Homo sapiens: one gene and its partner. The protein of the gene in region 1 purifies or fractionates together with the protein of each later gene. This does not show direct contact. Each region holds a gene or a part of one and is shown on either strand. Other genes may lie near its edges.

What was found.
Region 2: the proteins of DDHD2 (region 1) and CHI3L1 purify together in Homo sapiens (affinity purification with mass spectrometry; 2 studies listed by BioGRID and IntAct, with this or other methods). This does not show direct contact.

The regions. Positions count from the first base shown.
Region 1 is NC_000008.11:38,248,574-38,255,845, forward strand, and holds part of DDHD2 (triacylglycerol hydrolase DDHD2), read left to right. Parts: intron 1-1,134; coding exon 1,135-1,230; intron 1,231-3,338; coding exon 3,339-3,455; intron 3,456-3,558; coding exon 3,559-3,714; intron 3,715-4,148; coding exon 4,149-4,251; intron 4,252-4,383; coding exon 4,384-4,554; intron 4,555-4,982; coding exon 4,983-5,145; intron 5,146-7,272. UniProt on the Homo sapiens protein: Diacylglycerol (DAG) and triacylglycerol (TAG) lipase required for proper lipid homeostasis in the central nervous system. It cooperates with PNPLA2/ATGL in neuronal TAG catabolism and hydrolyzes sn-1,3 DAG downstream of PNPLA2/ATGL.
Region 2 is NC_000001.11:203,183,658-203,191,268, reverse strand, and holds the start of CHI3L1 (chitinase-3-like protein 1 precursor), read left to right. Parts: upstream 1-4,564; 5' UTR 4,565-4,645; coding exon 4,646-4,670; intron 4,671-4,923; coding exon 4,924-4,953; intron 4,954-5,883; coding exon 5,884-6,085; intron 6,086-6,636; coding exon 6,637-6,693; intron 6,694-7,459; coding exon of another isoform or gene 7,460-7,477; coding exon 7,478-7,611. UniProt on the Homo sapiens protein: Carbohydrate-binding lectin with a preference for chitin. Has no chitinase activity. May play a role in tissue remodeling and in the capacity of cells to respond to and cope with changes in their environment.

The DNA of each region.
Region 1 (7,272 bases):
ATAAGTAAGTAGGAAAAGTACACCGTGTTGTAAGAATTAACCTGGTCTCATAAGGTGCAGGAAGGCTTCCCTAATCAAATGAGTGATAGCTGGCTGGGTGTGGTGGCTCATGCCTGTAATCCCAGCACTTTGGGAGGCCGAGGTGGGCAGATCACGAGGTCAGGAGTTCGAGACCAATCTAGTCAACATGGTGAAACCCTGTCTGTACTAAAAATACAAAAATTAGCTGGGTGTGGTGGCACACACATGTAGTCCCAGCTACTTGGGAGGCTGAGGCAGGAGAATCGCTTGAACCCAGGAGGTGGAGGTTGCAGTGAGCTGAGATCACACCACTGCACTCCAGCCTGGGCGACAGAGCAAGACTCCATCTCAAAAAAAAAAAAAAAAAACGATGAGTGACACTTGAGATCTTGATTGTTAGTCTGTTCCATACTTGTGTGTTTGCTGTATGTTCTCAGTGCTTGCGTTCATCAGCAGGAGTATAATCCTTCTCAGGCATGTGACATCTAAGTCAGTATAGAAATCAAGGAAGTTTTTTTGTTTTGTTTTGTTTTTTTGAGACGGAGTCTTGCTCTGTTGCCCAGGCTGGAGTGCAGTGGCGCGATCTCGGCTCACTGCAAGCTCTGCCTTCCGGGTTCACGCCATTCTCCTGCCTCAGCCTCCTGTGTAGCTGGGAATACAGGTGACTGCCACTGCGCCTGGCTAATTTTTTTTGTATTTTTAGTAGAGACGGGGTTTCACCATGGTCTCCATCTCCTGACCTCATGATCCACCCGCCTCGGCCTCCCAAAGTGCTGGGATTACAGGCGTGAGCCACCGCGCCTGGCCAGAAATCAAGGAAGATTTTTATGTCCTGAAGTCCTTAGATACCCAACTTCTCTGTTTTTTTTTTTTTTTTTTAACAATAACAATGTCTATATTATTGTAACATTGATATTATAAGTATTGATATTTTCTATTCTTTTTTAGGCTGTTTCATGAATAAAACAGGTCCTTTTTTCTGGAAGTTATTCTATGATGTTTTACTACTAGAGAGACAGGCAGCAACAGAGTGCCTAGGCCTTGTTCCTCTTAGGGGACAGGATTGATTTTATTTTGTCTAGAAATAAGAAAGACTTGATTTTCTATGCCTAGGCTTTATGTACAGACCGAGATCTTCAGGAAATAGGAATTCCTTTAGGACCAAGAAAGAAGATATTAAACTATTTCAGCACCAGAAAAAACTCAATGGTATGTGCCTAATACAGCTTGTTGGACTAAACAATTCTTTGATGTCCATAGTGTGTCCTTGTGCTTTGTGGGATGTTTACTCTGGGGAGCCAAGCAGTTTTTTGGTAATTGATCTTTGGCTCTTTTTTTTTGAGACAGGGTCTCGCTCTGTCACTCAGGCTGGAGTGCAGTGGTGTGATCCCAGCTCATTGCAACCTCTGCCTCCCGGGTTCAAGCGATTCTCCTGCCTCAGCCTCTCGAGTAGCTGGGACTACAGGCGCCCACCACCATGCCTGGCTAATTTTTGTATTTTTAATAGAGACGGTGTTTCACCATATTGGCCAGGCTGGTCTCAAACTCCTGACCTTGTGATCTGCCCGCCTTGGCCTCCCAAAGTGCTGGGATTACAGGTGTGAGCCACCCGCCTGGCCGATCTTTGGCTCTCTTTCTAGAAATTAAACACATTTTCTTTTTTACATTCTTTTTTTTTTCTTTTCCTGGAAATGAAATCTCGCTGTGTTGCCCGGGGTGGAGTATAGTGGGTGGTCTCGGCTCACTGCAACCTCCACCTTCCAGGTTCAAGCAATTCTCCTGCTTCATCCTCTTGAGTAGCTGGGATTCCAGGTGTGCACCACCATGCCCAGCTAACTTTTTGTATTTTTAGTAGAGACGGGGTTTCACTATGTTGGCCAGGCTGGTCTTGAACTCCTGACCTCAGATGACCCATGTGCCTCAGCCTCCCAAAGTGCTGCACCGCTCCTGGCCCTTCTTTTTTTACATCCTTAAAAGTATTATTAGCTTCAGAAGTCTTCTCTCCTCTGGAATTCTCCTACCATTTATTTATTTATTTATTTTTTGCTTTTTTCTTTTCATGAGAGTTTTACCAATATCTACTTCACATCACATACCATAAAATTCACCCTTTTAAAGTTTACAATTTAATGGTTTTTAGTATATTCATAGAGTTATGTAACCATTACCACTATCCAATTTCAGCACATTTCCATTGTCCCTTAGGGAAACCCCATACCCATTTGCTGTCACTCCCCATTGCTCCCTGCCCCCAGCCTCTGTCAACCACTAATCTACTTTCTGTTTCTACAGATTTGCTTATTTTGGACATTCCATATAAATGGAATGTCCTTTTGAGCCATGTGTCTGACTTCTTTCACTTAGCATAATATTCTGAAGGTTTACCTGTGTTAACAGTACTTCCACATTCAGTTTTTCTGGTCACTGAATTTCTAACTCCATATCTTATTAGTTAGTTTTTTTCTTTTTGAGTCGGAGTGTTGCTCTGTCGCCCAGGATGGAGTGCAGTTGCACGATCTTGGCTCAATTGCAACCTCCGCCTCCTGGATTCAAGTGATTCTCCTGCTTCAGCTTCCTGAGTAGCTGGGATTACAGACACGCGACACCACACCCAGCTAATTTTTGTATTTTTAGTATGGGGTTTCACCATGTTGGCCAGGCTGGTCTTGAGCTCCTGACCTCAAGTGATCCGCCCACCTCAGCCTCCCAAAGTGCTGGGATTACAGGCGTGAGCCACCATGCCTGGCCAGTAGTTAGTTCTTTTCCAACTTTTTAGCAGGTGGCTCATTTCTTTTTAAAGACTCAGTTCTTGGCCCAGCCCATCGACATCCTACTTCCCTTGATTACAGAGGCACAGCACTTCATAGAACTCTAGCAATCCTCAGCATTATCTTCCCACAGTGCCCTGCTATTGTTTTCTCTTATGATTGTTGCCTAAAGTTTCAACGCTACTGAAATGGCTATGTACAACTTTCATCATTTTAGAGCATCTAAGAATGTCAATTAACAATTTAAGGCAATAATTTAATCTTGTTTTCTGAGGAAATCTTCCTAGAATTTTTGGCTGCCATTTCAGAACTTTCCCAAGGGTCCTTTCAAACCAGTAGAAAACTATATAATCCTTTGGCTATACTTTTACTATATAGTAGCTCCCCATACTTTTTTTTTAAATAGAGACTATGTTGCCCACGTTGGACTTGAACTCTTGGGCTTAAACAATCCTACCTACCTACCTACCTCAGGGTCCTGAGTAGCTGGGACTACAGGTGCATGCCGTCATGCCCAGCTTCTCCACATAACTATTTTTTATTCTTTAGGGTATTAAGAGACCAGCCCCGCAGCCTGCTTCAGGGGCAAACATCCCCAAAGAATCTGAGTTCTGCAGTAGCAGTAATACTAGAAATGGTGACTATCTGGATGTTGGCATTGGGCAGGTAACTAATTCTCTTTGATCATTTTACAGCCTGCTATTTGTATGGTAGAAACAGATGTAACTTTTGTTATTAATGAGAGATGCTTTTATTTTCCTCCTTTGAGGTGTCTGTGAAATACCCCCGGCTCATCTATAAACCAGAGATATTCTTTGCCTTTGGATCTCCCATTGGAATGTTCCTTACTGTCCGAGGACTAAAAAGAATTGATCCCAACTACAGATTTCCAACGTGCAAAGGTTTCTTCAATATTTATCACCCTGTAAGCATTGTACAGCTATTGTGGTTTTACCTAAATATCAGGGCTTATTGTTAAAGAACATAGGATTTTCTGTTGTGTTGATTTTTTTTTCCTATTCCATTGTCTAGCAATGAGACAACTTATAATAGTATTGATTTGGAAGTGATGGAGCAGAACTGTACATTTTTTTAAATGAACTTATGATTATTGTTTAAGATACATAGTTCTGGTTGTACATGGTGACTAATGCCTGTCATCCCAGCACTTTGGGAGGTCAAGGCAGGAGGATTGCTTGAGCCTAGGAGTTGAAGGCTACAGTGAGCCATGATTGCACCACTGCACTCCAGCCTGGGTGACAGAGCGAGACCTCATCTCAAAAAAAAAAAAAAAAAAGTTATATAGTTTCCAGACTGTGCTTAGCAGAGGTAAATGTAGCTCTTGTTTTTCCTATGTAGTTTGATCCTGTGGCCTATAGGATTGAACCAATGGTGGTCCCAGGAGTGGAATTTGAGCCAATGCTGATCCCACATCATAAAGGCAGGAAGCGGATGCACTTAGGTAAGTCCGAGCATAGAACTTGATAATTCTAGACCTTTTGGCCAGTGCAAAGGGCATCATTCACTCTGTTCAGCTATGTTGGACCCTAAGCTCTTTGTAAATCATTTAATGTTCTTTATTTATATGTTTCAGAACTGAGAGAGGGCTTGACCAGGATGAGTATGGACCTTAAGAACAACTTGCTAGGTTCGCTGCGGATGGCCTGGAAGTCTTTTACCAGAGCTCCATACCCTGCCTTACAAGCTTCAGAAACACCAGAAGAAACTGAAGCAGAACCTGAATCAACTTCAGAGAAGCCTAGTGGTCAGTGACACTGTACACATTGACCAGCTGCCAGATAAGAGGGATGCCATGGTGTGGCGTTTTTCATAGTTAATTTAATTTAATTTCACATTTAATTTCATAGTTAATATTGCATTCTTTTGCTTTAGTTTTCAACTTCTAAAGAGCTCTATTCCTGCTTGCATTTAGTATAAACCCAAGGCAAATGACCTAGCTATCAATGGTATAGGTAATGAGATGTGTTGCGCAAAAGCAAAAAAGGGGATTGGACAAAATTACTGTGACCTGAGAAGGAGCTTGAAGGAGATTGAGAGGAGGAAGATGGGAGAGAGCTCTCTGAACAGAGAGTAGCTCATTCTCTGGTAAACTTGGAGTGTGAGGAGAAGTTAACAGGATAACCCTGAAGGCCAAAAGGTTTTAGATTCTTATTATGGTTCTTCCATATCCAGATGTTAACACAGAAGAGACCTCTGTGGCAGTTAAAGAAGAAGTCCTGCCTATCAATGTGGGGATGCTGAATGGAGGCCAACGCATTGACTATGTGCTACAGGAGAAGCCTATTGAAAGTTTTAATGAGTATTTATTTGCTTTACAAAGCCATCTATGCTACTGGTAAATGTTGTTTATTTTTGTCTGTTTTGTTTGTTTACCTGTTTCATAGATATTTGATAGATGTAGAAAAAGGAGGATAGGCCAGGTGCATTGGCTCAGGCTTATAATCTCAGCACTTTGGGAGGCCAAGGTGGGAGGATTGCTTGAGTTCAGGAGTTTGAGACCGGCCTGGGAAACATAGCAAGACCTCATCTCTACAAAAACTAAATTAGCTGGGCGTGGTGGTATGCGCTTATAGTCCCAGCTACTTGGGAGGCTGAGGCAGGAGAGTCACTTGAGCCCAGGAGTTTGAGACCACAGTGAGCCATGATCACACCACTGCACTCTAGCCTGGGTGACAGAGCAAGACCCTGTCTCAAAAAAAAAAAAAGACCTGTGTACCTTTGGAATTAAAATGACTTCTCATTTAGACAGCACAAGCACAATCATGTCATTTCAAGAATCTGGTTTAAACACACTGTTGTTTTATTTTGCAGCTGGGTAGAACATGGTTGAGGCTAATGATGCCAACAACCATAAGTTCAATTATCTTGGTGTTAAAAATGTGTCTTTTGGCCATTTAGGTGCACATGAATGAACTGGAACAAATATTACTGTTGCTGGAAGTCTTATAGCAAACCCATTTGAAAGCATTTATGGTAGCTGTGACAGAATTAATTATTATTATTTTATCATTATTTGAGACAGGGTCTTGCTGTGTCACCCAGGCTGGAGTGCAGTGGCATGCTCATGGTTCACTGCAGCCTTGACCTCCTGGACTCAAGTGATCCTCCCCCCTCAGTCTCCCTAATAAGTAGGATGACCGTTGTGCACCACCATGCCCAGCTAATTTTTGTACAGACAGGGTTTCGCCATGTTGCCCAGGCTGGTCTAAACTTCAAGCAATCAATCCGCCTCCACCTCTGCCTCCCAAAGTGCTGGAATTACAGGCATGAGCCACCACGCCTGGGCAGAATTATTATTAAATATAATTGGTTACCTGATGGATTGTAGAATGGATTAATGATGCTTATTGAAATTCAGGCCGGGTATGGTGGCTCATGCTTATAATCCCAGCACTTTGGGAGGCCGAGGAAGGAGGATTGCTTGAGGCCAGGAGTTGAAGGCTGCAGTGAGCCATGATGGTGCCACCGCACCCTAGCCTGAGTGACAGAGCGAGACCATGTCTGAAAAAAAATAGTATAAAATAATACTAATTAATCCCTGAAGAAGTTGACATAAAAATAAAGTAAGGGAAATAAGATGGGTCAGAGATAAGTGTTTTAAAAATGAAAGCTCAGACCAGCATGGCCAACATGGCGAAATCCTGTCTCTACCAAAAATACAATTAGCCAGGTGTGGTGGTGCATGCCTGTAGTCCCAGCTACTAGGGAGGCTGAGACAGGAGAATTGCCTGAACCTGGGAGGCAGAGGTTGCAGTGAGCGAGATCACGGCCACCGCAGTCCAGCCTGGGTGACAGAGCGAGACTCCATCTCAAAAAAAAAAAAAAAAAAAGCAAGCTCAAAGGTCCTAAGAATAATTTTTCCCTTGAATTCTGATGAGGAATTATCATCTGATGCAATCACTATCGTTTGTATATAATATATACAGTAGAGGCCAAAAGCAATCTTGTAAGGGGCTAAAATAATGCTAAGAATGATCTCTGGTGATCTGGCTTGATAGAAAAGAAAGCAGAGTTCTTTTAATATTTCTGTGTGGGCAGTACATTCATATGGTTTGAAATTCAAAGAAAGAAAAATAATGAAAAGCCTCTTTTTTATTTTGTTTCTTGCAATCAGTTTCTTCCCCATATACAACTAATGTAAAATGTCTTCCAGCCATCTATTTTATGCCTCCATAATAAATATATGTATGTGAATATATTCTTTCCCTTATTTTAAAAACATAAATAGTAAATTAAAGGCAATGTTCTGTGCCTTGTTTTTTCTACTAGTATATCTTGGCATTTTTTAACCTATTATATGTTGTTTCCTCATTTTTTTTTTTAGCTGCATAGTCTTCCGTTATGTAAATACACCATAATTTATTTAAGCCGTCCTCTACTCATGGACTTTCAGGTTTCCTTTTCTTTTGCACACACCTTGTTCATGTCATTTCACCTACTCATGAGTATATCTGTAATGTAA
Region 2 (7,611 bases), on another chromosome or scaffold:
TGGAAATGACACCTATGAAGTCCTCTAGAAAACTCTGGTATGGCTTTAGAACTGATGACATTGCAGCCTTAGAGGTAGTAAAATAAATAAATAAATAAATAAATAAATAAATAAATAAAACCTACATTTCCTGGCAGTCTAGGAATATTAACACATATGGGAATCTTAGAGAAAATGGTGCTGATATAATACTTCACACATAAAAGTAATTTCTTCCCAGCCCTAGGGGCTTTACAAAGCCTCCAGACAGAAGCTCACTGTAAAGCATCACTATCATGTGGCTCTGGTTTCGCTAGCCATACAAAAAGAAAGTATTTATTTCATCAACACCTCCTGTTATGTCAATAGAAATAAATTTTGGTCAAATAAAACAAAATATCAATTTGATGATGCTGCATCAGGAAGTTATTAAGCAACATATACGGTTCAACCCATGCCTCAATGGCAAGGACTTGCCCACAAGGAAGGAAAATCCGTAGACGCAAAGCCCAACTCTTCACTCTACTGGCTTCATTCATGACCAAGTACCACTGCGGGGTGGGGATGGGAATAATTTGCATCTGGAGATAAGCCAAGAATAATAGGTTATCCTGAGTGGTTTAAGACACCAAAATAATAAGCCTTGGCTATTTCCCATAAATTTGGATTCCCAGCTGGGTGTGGTTGCACACGCCATTGATCCCAACACTTTGGGAGGCTGAGGCAGGAGGATGGCTTGAGCCCAGAAGGTCGAAGCTGCAGTGAGCCCAGATCACGCCACTGCACTCCAGCCTGGGTGACAGAGTGAGACTCTGTCTCAAAAAGAAAAAAAATTCCCCGAAAAAAACAATTTCATCCCTGATTTTTGCTATGCTGATAAGTGAAGATGTGTTGTAAAAATGATGCTGATCTCCACCAAACGTGATAACCTTGGGTCATTTTTTTTTCCCCTTCAAATACTTGTTGCATTTTGCATTTGACGAGCCAGCCATTCTGAAATCTGACTCGCTTCCGCTTTTCACAAGCAACTGTTTTCTTCTCTAAGTGTTTCTGCCTCTGAGTCTTCGACAGCTTCTACTGTGCGCCAGCACCACCACCGAGCTGAGGATTTGGAGATGATTTGAATTCCTGCCTGGCAGAAGTCCACCCTCTGGAGGAAGAGACTACTTGTAAAAGAGAGAATTCTCCTCAAGCATTTGGTGGGGCATCAACACCACCTCTGTTTGCTCTGACACGCCATGCAAAATGAAGGAATCCTCAAAACCACTGTGCCCAAGGGGCCAGCCCAGGCTCCCAGGAGCTTGTTTTCTGAATGGTGGTAATGTCCACCCTCTGGCTCCTGATCCAGACTCATCTTGTGCCTCCCTCGAGCTCCCTCCTGCTAATTCCATGCCTCAACCACTCTTGAATTCTTCTGGTTCCTGAACATAACAACCTCTTCCTGCTCCAGGTTTTTGCACAATTTTTTTTGTGTGTAGGGGACGGTGGGCAAGGGGCAGACTAACACCTGCCCTTCCTTCGTAATACATTACTTGCTTTTCTTTGTTTAATGTCCATCTTCTTTGCCAGACTGTATGCTTCATGAGGACAGGGACTGCCTCTCTGTTCCCATTCACCTTTCTGTCTCTACTGTCTACCTCAGTGGAAGGCAACTACTCTAGTACACTTACTTAATAAACATTGGTTGAACACTATCAATGTACTGTGGGGCCTAGAAATGTTTGATTAGGGAAATTAAGTCAGGAAGCTTGTTTTGTGGTTTTATGGCACCTCCTGAGTCAGTTCTTCACAGGGTAACAAAAACTATTGAATGAGATGAAATTTTGAGAACATCAGGGTTTAAACTCATAAGAGTGTGAAGTTATGCACCATTTTGAGATCATTTGTTCATTTATTCAACGAGTACTTTACTGAGCATCTACTATGTCTCAAGCACTGGGGATAGATACAAAGGTGGATAAAATGACCCAGCCGTTGCCTTTACTGAGTTTATAGTCTAGTGAGAGAGGCAAACAAAACATCCACTGCCACACACAACATATAAAATTATAACTGAGTCAGGTGTTAAGGAGAGAGGTACAAAGTGCTCTGACAGCCCTATAGCGGGTTTTCTGTCACCTGGAGACTGCCTTTTCTGCAGACAAGGTGACTCCTGAGCTGCAATCTGAAGGATGAGGAAGAATAAAGCAGTCAAAGAAGAGCAGTGTTAGGCTGCAATTCTCCATCCGCAATTCTCCAACCGCAATTCTCCATGGGTTGCCTGCATTTCCTGCACAGCTTATGTGCAGAGGCACTGGCTTCTTTGTTCTAGGCAATCTTTTTAGTGATGTTTGTACAGCAAACAGCCTTGGAAGATAGAAATAGCGTCCCCCCTCCAGACCAAAAGGCAGATTTGTTTACTGTCCAGTAATAAAGATAATGTCTCCCTTATCTTGGGCTGGCCAAGGTGAGGAAGGCTTACTGCTCATCATGAAAGATTTGAGTTCCTTAAACTAGGGATTCCTCTGCTGTGATGTAACTCATTGCATTCATGGCATCTACCTGGGCTCCTCCAACACTGCCCTTGTGAGACCTGAGGGCTAAGGGGAACTGACCCTAACATGAAGTTCATGCTGCTTGCTGTACCATGGATAATAAAGTCCTTTGTCTCTGACCTAGGAGTCTCGTGTCTTCTGCCAACATCCACGAAACTGTAGTTATGTCATTAATTTGCAAGTAGCATAAAATCTCAGATCTTTCATCGTTATTTACAGGCAAGTGGATGTCATATATAAAGGCCCTGTGGCGGGAGTCAGTAGAGCAAATATAAGGATTTAAAAGAAGACATATAAGCATGAGTGGAATATAGGGAGGGTGGGGGTCATGGCCTGAGATAAGGCTGGGAGGTGGTGAGCCTATGAGACCCTTGGCCAATCCTGCTAACACAGGCCTGGGGGTATCTTGGCCATTTGTTGTTACAAAGCTGCCTTCAGGCAGAGCATGTGGAATTAATAAACTGAGCTTGAGGGAGCATAGGACAACAAGGCTTGGGCCAATCTAAGCCTATGAAATAATTTTTAACAAAGGGAGATAGTGAAAATAGGAGGTGTTTTCTTAACATCCTGTGCTCTGTGATGAAAAATTTTGCATCTGCATGCCACTTCATAATATCACTATTAGAAATTAGAAGTCCTCCTCTCAGTGCCCCAAATGAACCAGAAGAAGCTATCATTGACTGTCATTGCTGTCAATCATCTTGGGTACAAAAGGAGGCAGTCATCTTAAAAAGGAAAAGTGATGCCTCTTTAGTATTCACCGAGCGTGATTCTGGACAAGCCACTTTTTGTCCACCTCTCTTACAATGAAGGGAAGGCACTGGCTGAGTTTTAAAGGAAGAGAAAGGGAGAGAGGGAGAGAAGAGGGAGAGAGCAGAGAGACCTCACCGAGAGAGCTGCAAAACCAGCCTGGAAAAATTAGAGTATTACCTAACATTAGTGAAAAATAAAGGTACTTTCTTGAGAAGCCCTTGGACCCATTCTGCCTCTTGGAGTTCTGAACTTTTCACTCACTGCCTATTAATTAATGTTAAGCCTGCAAAGAATGGAGTTGTCCTGGATATTTGGCCAAAAAAAAAATGTATCCACAAACAGGGACGTAATCAGGCAGGGAGCCTCGTTAAGAAGTTTTGTTCTTGTCCTAGGAGTGATGAGAGATCACTGAAGGATTTAGAGAGGGGCTGTATCATCAGGCTTGGGTTCCAAAGCCTCACTGAGAGAGTTGGGGAGCTGACTGATGTCAGATGCTCGTGCAGCCGCCCCGTAGGGCCTGTATTTCCTCCATGGTGCCTCACTGCAGCACCGAGCTTGCAAAAGATCCTCTCTCTTTATGGGAATTTCAAAACAGAAGCAAAATAGCACCGGGGCTTAAAGCATTCTTGGGAATTTCCCTGTCTTTCCCTCTAAATAATCAGCATGTAAATTGCAAAAAAAAAAAAAAAAAAAAAAAAAAAGACACGGGCCCAAAAGGGAGCGCTCAGTTTCAGGCTCTTTGCTTTCCTTCCTCCCGAGGCTCTCTGGCCCTTACCCAGCCTGAAGACAGAAAGTGTGAGGGGGAGGGTAGGAAGGTAGGTCAAGCAGGGCAATGCTGAGCCTGGGAAGAAAACAACAGCCTTGTTTAGGGCACTGTGGCTTACGTAACTAAATTGTGCCCAGTTTCCACCTGGCCAGGGGCCTGGAGTGAATGCTGAAGATGCAAAGGTAGAGGCTGCCAGAAAAGCCAGGAAATTGCTGGCAAGAAAGGCCAGTGGTGGGGTGCAGGAGTGGGAGGAAGGCTGGGAAATGCGGCTGAGTCACATCTCCAGAAGCCCCCCATCATCACCCTAGTGGCTCTTCTGCTGGCAGGTGCCTCATGAAGACCTGACCCAAAGTTTTCAAAACTCTGCGGTTTCTCAACCCTCCTCTGGTAATCCATAGTACTCCCCCGCCTCCACTTGCCAGCCTCGTGATTCCTTCATTGACACATAGCTCAGTTCCCATAAAAGGGCTGGTTTGCCGCGTCGGGGAGTGGAGTGGGACAGGTATATAAAGGAAGTACAGGGCCTGGGGAAGAGGCCCTGTCTAGGTAGCTGGCACCAGGAGCCGTGGGCAAGGGAAGAGGCCACACCCTGCCCTGCTCTGCTGCAGCCAGAATGGGTGTGAAGGCGTCTCAAACAGGTATCTGGGCTAGCCAAGGTTAATCCATCAGAGTTGTGGGTTTTCAGGCCCAGACAGCCCGCAGAGCCATCTGCCTGCTGGGTGAGGGACTAAGGGAGTGGGCAGAGGGGGAGGAGAAGCAGAGCCAGGGGAGGGACTGAGGCTGCAACCAGGAGGTGGGGGTGGGGGAGGTGGGTCTCAGTTGCTTGGGGGAGGGAGCAGGGCGGAAGGGCAGGATGCACTTGCAGGGGTCTCATCCTGGATTTCTCTTCAGGCTTTGTGGTCCTGGTGCTGCTCCAGTGCTGTGAGTAATCCCTCCACCTCCACTTTTAAGTCCAGAGGCGTGGCGAGGGCACAGGGCAGGTGTGGAGGAGGTCTTAGCTCCAAGGGAACACTTTGCCAGGTTCTTCTGTGCTTCCAATGACTTCGAAATAGTCACGTTTGCTAAACTGGAGTGAGGAGTATATGGATGTTTATTTTGCTATACTCTTTGGTATATGTGAAAATTCTCAAAATAAGAAACTTTAAAAGGTCCTGGTTCAGTGAAGGCTTTGACTAACAGCCCCTGGGAGCCGCTAGTACAGTTGCCCAGTAGCTGCTTGGATGAGTGATGCCCACATTGTTTGCAGCAGGAGAAACAGAATTAGAGGCGAGGAAGGATTTCCTGGTCCATTGTGATATTGTGCCCCAGCCTGGGGGACATGCCGAGGGAGCACAGGACTGCCATTCCGGGTGGGTTACAAGTTAGAGGCACTCTCACCAGGAGGCAGAGAAAGGTGGGCCAGAGTCCCTCATGGATGAAGGACCTCACTGCAGGTCACTAAAGGTGCCAGCCTGAAAGCCAGGGCCATCTGTGACACAGGCTATCTTGGGCCTTCCCCTCCCACAAAGCCACTGCTTCCAGGAAGCCTGCTGTGCTGGCACCAAGTCCCATTTCATCCTTATTCCCCAGCTCCTACCCTTCCCCCACACAGTGCCTGTAGCGTATTCATCCCCTGCATTGGATCTTTTCTAAGCATTTTCAGAATAGGCCTTATTTTCACCAGTCAGGGAACTCCCCAGAGGCAGGGGGACCTGAACCAGCTCCTTTCATTTAAGAATTCTGACTTTGCTCACAATCTGCACCCCACTCCTCCCTACCCAACCCCACACCCCATTGGTGCTCAGCTCTGGGCTCAGCCTGAGGTCTCTTGCCGAATCCTGGCCCGGGCCCCATCCCAGACTTCTCCTTCAGGCTCTGCATACAAACTGGTCTGCTACTACACCAGCTGGTCCCAGTACCGGGAAGGCGATGGGAGCTGCTTCCCAGATGCCCTTGACCGCTTCCTCTGTACCCACATCATCTACAGCTTTGCCAATATAAGCAACGATCACATCGACACCTGGGAGTGGAATGATGTGACGCTCTACGGCATGCTCAACACACTCAAGAACAGGTTGGGCCAGGGCTGGCCAGGAGAGGAGGGACCAGCTGGGCTGGTCCCAGGGCAGGGCAACCCCACCCAGGAGGAAGGGCGAGGCCCCACCCTGCTCACCTATGTTTGGAGAGTTAGAGGGGCTTGGCTTAAATGGGTGGAGGGGATGACTGTAGGTGCTGGGCAATATTTGGGGTGATGAGAGACTGTAGACGGAAGCGCAGCTGAGCCCCTCTGGGAGAGGGGAACCCTCTCCTGCCCCTAACGTGCTCTCCAGGGAGCATGGAAAATGAGCAAGACTCTACTTTGCCATACTCTGTCTTCTCCACTGGGGAAAACAAAAATGGGCAGCAGACCTCAGAGTAACTCCCATGAAGCCTGTGACCCCTCAGAGATCCACCACTATGAATCTCTATGGGATTCCCATGATGTCCTATGGGAGGACATCAGCGGCCTAACCCAGCCTCTCACCCAAAGCAGGAAACCTTCTATGGCCTCTCAGACATGGGGCCACCCAGTGTCATGACAATGTCATTCCACTCCTGCCCTCCCCACCTCCCTGTGCTCCACAGGAACCCCAACCTGAAGACTCTCTTGTCTGTCGGAGGATGGAACTTTGGGTCTCAAAGGTAGGAGCCTCTCCCCAGGGGCAGGACGGCAGAGGATGATGGCATAGGAGTGAGGAGCTTGGGTCTCCCGCATCCACTGTATGGATGTTCCAGGGGCTCCAGACTAGATAGGTACAAGGCCTACCTGTTTGTCAAGGGCCTGCCTGATGTGTAGCAAAGAAAGCAGAGCCCAGAGAGAGAGCAGGACTTGCCAAGAGTCACACAGCAAGTTAACAGTGGATCTCCCAATTCCCTGCCAATGCTCTATTTACTACCTCACAGGCCCGAAAATATGGGACTTCTGGGGCTACCACCATTAGGGCTGGAAAGAGAGAGATGGAAACCAATGGGGACATTGAGAAGTGGGGAGACCCTGGGAGGAGTCTTTGGATTAGGTGGGGTTGGAGCAGGGCTTGAAATGGGGGTGGTTATGGCCATCGTTGGCACCCATGTGCTGGGTACTCTTTCTGTGTCCAGCACCCTGTCTCCCCATGATCCCATGTTGTCCTCACAACAGCAAGGTGAGCTGTTATATTTGTCCCCATTTTACAGATGATGAAACTGAGACTCAGGTTATAACCTTTCACAGTGGCTGGCTAGTAAGTGATAGAGCCAGACTTGGAAACCTGGAATGCCTGGCTCTAAGGCACATGCATGCCTGGAGGCGACCCCTGTCCCAATCATGCCCTCCCAGAGCTGTGTGGCCTCAGGATCCCAGCTCTGCAGGTCCTGGAAACCCCACCAGAGGCCCAAGGCACCTAGCATATCAGTGCTGAGCATGCTACAGGGCTGATTTTGGTCCTAGATTTTCCAAGATAGCCTCCAACACCCAGAGTCGCCGGACTTTCATCAAGTCAGTACCGCCATTTCTGCGCACCCATGGCTTTGATGGGCTGGACCTTGCCTGGCTCTACCCTGGACGGAGAGACAAACAGCATT